2 separate regions of the Homo sapiens genome follow, and region 2 is linked to region 1. A link means that fine-mapping ties the variant in region 1 to the expression of a gene that starts in the linked region. Tissue or cell type: subcutaneous fat. Region 1 holds a variant in brackets; the other region holds the start of a gene. All regions are shown on one strand. Distances are from middle to middle.

What was found. PIP is the estimated chance that this variant, and not a neighbour inherited with it, causes the effect.
Region 2: it holds the start of WDR5B-DT, and the variant in region 1 is fine-mapped to the expression of WDR5B-DT in subcutaneous fat (FUSION, PIP 0.95).

Annotation. Positions count from the first base shown.
Region 1 is chr3:122,506,089-122,508,778 of GRCh38, forward strand. The region is part of intron 1 of KPNA1 (karyopherin subunit alpha 1); the gene reads right to left. Among named protein-coding and RNA genes, the nearest start is that of KPNA1, 7.5 kb to the right of the region's middle. RefSeq lists enhancers at 2,441-2,490, 2,651-2,690. The variant C/CA (reference allele first, on the strand shown) is at 1,352.
Region 2 is chr3:122,414,765-122,417,454 of GRCh38, forward strand. WDR5B-DT (WDR5B divergent transcript) reads left to right here and starts at 1,442. Exons shown (of 3, transcript NR_125405.1): 1 at 1,442-1,486. It overlaps WDR5B (WD repeat domain 5B), which reads right to left and starts at 1,298. Exons shown (of 1, transcript NM_019069.4): 1 at 1-1,298. The coding sequence starts at 764. RefSeq lists enhancers at 843-1,042, 1,278-2,095, 1,313-1,552, 1,583-1,632, 1,793-1,992 and 1 more.

The DNA.
Region 1 (2,690 bases):
TGAGTGTAGATCTTTTTATATTTTTATTATATTCAAGATGTTATATATTCAGTGCACTGGGTCAGCCCACCTAATCAGTAAATCTCAAACACATTCTAAATGTTCTGAATATTTAAAATCCATAATACTCTTGTGGAACAACTTGAAATCCTAATATACTTAATTCCACCATATAAATCAGGCATAATTTTATTAGAAAGTATATGATATGCATTTACTATTAAAAACCAAAACTACAAGAAAGTATGACTACAAAAAAGTTATGAATTTAAATAAGTGGAGTATAAGTATAAAGTGTTCAGTTCATTTGAAAATATAAATTATTGATGTTAACAGCTTCTAGTCAAACGATAGTAGGTCCGTTTAAAATATTTTAATAGAAATTAGAAAAGAAAATTAAAATTTGAAATATCCTACCCATTCTTTTCCTATACGATAATTAAGGAGTAGCTTTATTTTTATTAAGAGCATTTCAGTGTTCAATGAAAGCAAAGTTTGAAAAACCCTTCAATAAAGCTTTTCCTGTGAGAAGTCAATGTGGCAGACATATGATTCATAGGTGTTCATCTCTGGCCTCATCTTATAGCTCTAACCAATAATCCAATGGCAATACATATTTTCTTTCACAGCCCAGTTTCAAATGTTTTCCTTTGAGAGGTTTATCATAACCTTTGCCCCAAATTCTGACCCCCAACTCCCAGTATCTATAGGTTCCCAAGCTGGGAAGTTCTCCAAAGACATTCTCAATATCAAAACACTTAAAGGAAAATATCTGTCAAGGATCTGGAGAACTCAAACCCTGAATTGAATACTTCCACTTTTAGAATGTACATAAAGGAAACAAAACTAGTAGTATGTGTAAGACTGTTCACTGCAGTGTGATTATTCTAGTGAAAAATTGTAAAAAACCTAAAAGTTCCAATATGAGGGCTTGGTTAAAGGAAATGTTCACAATGTATTGAGAAAACAGAACACTAACATGAAAAATCTGAATGCTGGGAACAAAAACCCAACCTACACTATTCTCTATACTTTCGAAAAATATTTCGTAACTTAAGAAATCAGAATATAGCTGGGCGCAGTAGTTCACACCTGTAATCCCAGCACTTTGGGAGGCCAAGGCGGGCGGATCACCAGAGGTCAGGAGTTCGAGACCAGCCTGGCCAACATGGGGAAACCCCATTTCTATTAAAAATACAAAAATTAGCCGGGCGTGGTGGCGGGCGCTTGCAATCCCAGCTACTCGGGAGGTTGAGGCAGGAGAATCACTTGAACCCAGATGGCAGAGGTTGCAGTGAGCTGAGATTGTGCCATTGCACTCCAGCCTGGGCGACAGAGCAAGACTCCATCT[C/CA]AAAAAAAAAAAAAAAGAAAAGAGAAGATATCAGCATATAAAATTTGAATATGGAAATATTATTTTATCTTCCAAATTTTCTGTGATAAGCAATATACTGATTATACAAGAAAAAAACTTTCAAAAAGTAGAGCTGAAAGCATATGTTTACTATGATAAAGCTTATCAACCTACCTAAAACACTGAATTTCTATACTTTTCACTACTATTTTTTCAACTGAGTATGCTGTTATTTCTTCAGAAGTTCTGATCTTTATGGTCTTTATGAAGGAGAAAAATTATCTCTTATCTAAAAGTTGAATGATTTTTTGGGGGGTTAAAAAAAAAAAAAGACAAATCTTTCCAGAAGATGACATAAAGGGTTCGTTCCCTCAGTAGTAAAAAAATTTTTAATCGCAAAAACTTGCCTTCATTCAATTCATATCCATTAATGAATTTAATAACCACTGTAATATATCTGTTTTAAGAACACTTATGAGGGTTTTCAAATTTCAAATCAGGAATTAGCACATATAGACTGCACTTTTCTTCCCATATCATATTAACTCAAAGCCAGAAATTCAATTTTAATCTTCAATAGGCACACAGTGGTCATTCAAATGCTGTGAAAAAATGAACAGAGGAGAAAACAAAGAGTTTATGTAAAGAAATAAAATGGTAGACATGGTAGAATACTAAAATTATAAAGAAATTTTTTTTTCAAATAAATGAACCAGAACCACGGCATAAAGAGAATAGGTAAGCAAAAGAATCAGAGATGGTGTCAAAACCTAAAAGAAGCCATAAAATAGACAAATTATATGTCACTAGCAAAGTGGAAAACTCTGAAGCCTAACCTGCAAACGAAGAAGGCAATAAGAAACAAGCTGATTCACACTACCTACCCACAAACAGGATGCTTCAGACAGATCATCCAGGTACTATCCCTCCTTAAGGTAGTGAGGAGTTGGGCTCAAAATCAGAAGGTTTGTTGAAAGTCTACAAAACAGCCATCACATGCCCAGATTTCCTCCTCCACTCTTCACAACCAGACAACCATCCTTCAGTAATCCCTTCAAATGGGTGCTCCAATGCAGGTGAGGGTGGGGGTGAGGTGCCTTATTGATAACAGAATTACATGAGCACAACAGTAAAAACCCAAGCTCCTTTTCTAAAATGAGTTCTCAAAACATGGCAGCCAGACACACATTCTCCTGGCAAGAGACTGGAGACTCTCAGGGAAACTGACTAGCCCAAGAGAAACAAACCTATGAGTATATGCCCTCCACCCACCACAAAAAAAATGGCCACCAGCTACTCTCTTCACCCTTCAACAAGCCACACTTAATAGAGCTTCCAA
Region 2 (2,690 bases), 91 kb before region 1:
TTCTCATTCTTATGACCAGTGTATGTTTTCAGGCACCTGCCTCTGCTATAATCCCATAGTTTAAGAGTGTTGTCCAAAGTTGCAGTGAGAATGTATTTACCATTTGGAGAAAATTTTACAAAAGAGACAGGAGGGTTATCGTCATCAACGAGCGTTTTTAAACACTGACCTGATGCAGCATCCCAGATTCTACAGAGGCCATCATAGCTACCTGACACTATCAAGGACCCACTACAATTAAAATGAACAGCAGAAACTGGGTCAGAATGAGCAGACAAAGTCTTGAGACACTTTCCTGTTTTCACCTCCCATATTTTTACAGTCTCATCAAAAGATCCCGAGATTATAAGGTTGGATGGCGGATTGAAGTTACAACAAAAGACATAATTACTGTGCCCCTTCAGTGTTTTCAAACATTTTCCAGATCTCACATCCCATAATTTTAGAGTTTTATCATCTGAGGCAGAAACAAGACGACTGGAATCTGATGACCAGGCAACATCCGATATTTCCAAATTATGACCATAGAGTGTTTTCTCATATTTTCCATCATATGCTCCCCAAATTATGATTAGCCTATCAGCAGAAGAACTTGCTAGCCATTCTCCATTAGGACTAAACTTAACTGATGACACTGCTTCCGTGTGTCCCACAAGAGTACATTTGAGAGCATAGTTTGGGTTTTCAGGCACTTCCTTGCTCTGATTGGCCGATGAGGAGAGGGCCAACTGTGCTTTGGCGTCTCTTGACTCCTTGGTTGCCATGGCTCTGAAGCTCCAAGTTAGCAGGTGTACTAGGCGTTCAGCCCTGAACCAGGCAGTCCAGTACTTTGGCTTTCTGCCCAGCAAAATGAAGATAAACGCACAGGATTTTAAAATGTACAGTTTTGAAAGCTTAAAGTTTCTGGACAGTCTTTAAACTGTGAGACGGAATCAGCAGCACGGCTTGGACTTCAAGTTTTCATCTTTTTGTTAAGTACTTGAGAAATACTGTTAGAAGGATCCTGTGCGCTGTCAGCAAGTAGGACACAAATGTTCGGCATTCCGTTAATACATAAAGCCTTCAAAGCAGGGGCGACGCGAGGGGCACTCTCTACAGAAAGTATTCTTTCACCGCCGCCCCCCTCCCCAGGTCGAAATGTTTCGGAATGCTGAGCAGCCCTACCAGTCAGGCTAGGTACTTGAAGATGAATGAACCGCCGCTTTTAGCGGATTTCAGAAGCTAAAAGCCTACGAAGCCACCGAAACTGGAAACTCTGGCCTGTCGGCTACTTTTGCTCGTACCAGCAGGTGTGCACTGCCGCGTCAATCTCCAACAAAGCCGGAAAAGCAGCCTGGCGCATGTGCAAAGGAAGTCCCTCCTACCACTACCGAGCCGAGATGACCAATGGGAGACGGCCATCTGCGCCTGCGCAAAAAAGTCGCCAATGTTCATTTCCGGTCTTTTTCGCCCCGCCCTTCAAATGCGAAAGCGACTGCCTTCTTGGGTGAGTGCATTAGCTGGGTAGGGTCTGTCCCGGACCTAACTGGATAGTGTGGGAAGCAGTGGATCGTTGTTTCAAAAACCATTTCTTTTTGGAAATTGTCACAGAGAAGGACTAGATTTGCGGATGCCTACCTTAGCTGCAGGCTTAGGCCCACACCTGACGCGTAAGCTGCCTAAACGGCAGCTAACGTAGATCCACCCAGACGCCGGAAACGGGGGAAGCTCCTGCTTTGCATGGGTTCCGCTCCCTCCTGTTTGTTGTGGTGTGGAGCCAGGTGGCATGTGTGGCGATGGAGTCACGGGGCGGGTGACAGAATTTATGCCAGATTGTAAAATTCCTGGTTTAAGTTTCCCCTGGAAAAGTTTCGTAAAGGTTAAGAAACGTGTCTGTTGAGGTCCTTTAAAAGCCGGTGCTCTGCTGGGAGTAACGAGCAAACGTTTGTTTTAGCATCTACGGCTTAAGCTTCCATAGAGAAGTCGGTATCTCAAAGTTGCTTGAAACAGAAAAGGACAAAGAGGTTGGTGGAATAGGGTAACGGATAAGGTTACTCTTAAGGAGGTTTTAGAGAGCTTTCCCCAGTTTTAGGAGATGATTAATGGTCATGAAAGTGTGTAAAATATACATGCTATTGAAGTTGCAACGAAAGACATAATTACTGTGCCCCTTTAGTGTTTTCAAACATTTTCCAGATCTCACATCCTATAATTTTAGAGTTTTATCATCTGAGGCAGAAACAAGACGACTGGAATCTGATGACCAGGCAGACTTTTAAACAATAGGTTTACCAAAAAACTGGAAGCCCTACTAGTTTCTCCAACCTGTTGTTGCTCAGTAAAGAGTGCCCGAGGCCGAGCACTCACGCCTGTAATCCCAGCACTTTGGGAGGCCCAGTCGGGCGGGACACTTTAGGTCGGGTGTCCGAGACCAGCCTGACCAACATGGCGCAACCAATACTGCTAAAAATACAAAAATTAGCTGCGCGTGATGGCGCACGCCTGTAGTCCCAGCTACTCAGGAGGCTGAGGTGGGAGAATGGCATGAACCAGGAGGTGGAGGGTGCAGTAAGCTGAGATTCCACCAGTGCACTCCAGCCTGGGCAACAGTGAGACTCCGTCTCAAAAAAAAAAAAAAAAAGAGTGCCCAAGAAAAGCAGAAAAAACGTGGCTTAAAAGATTTTACTGGTGGCTGGTCACGATGCAAATGT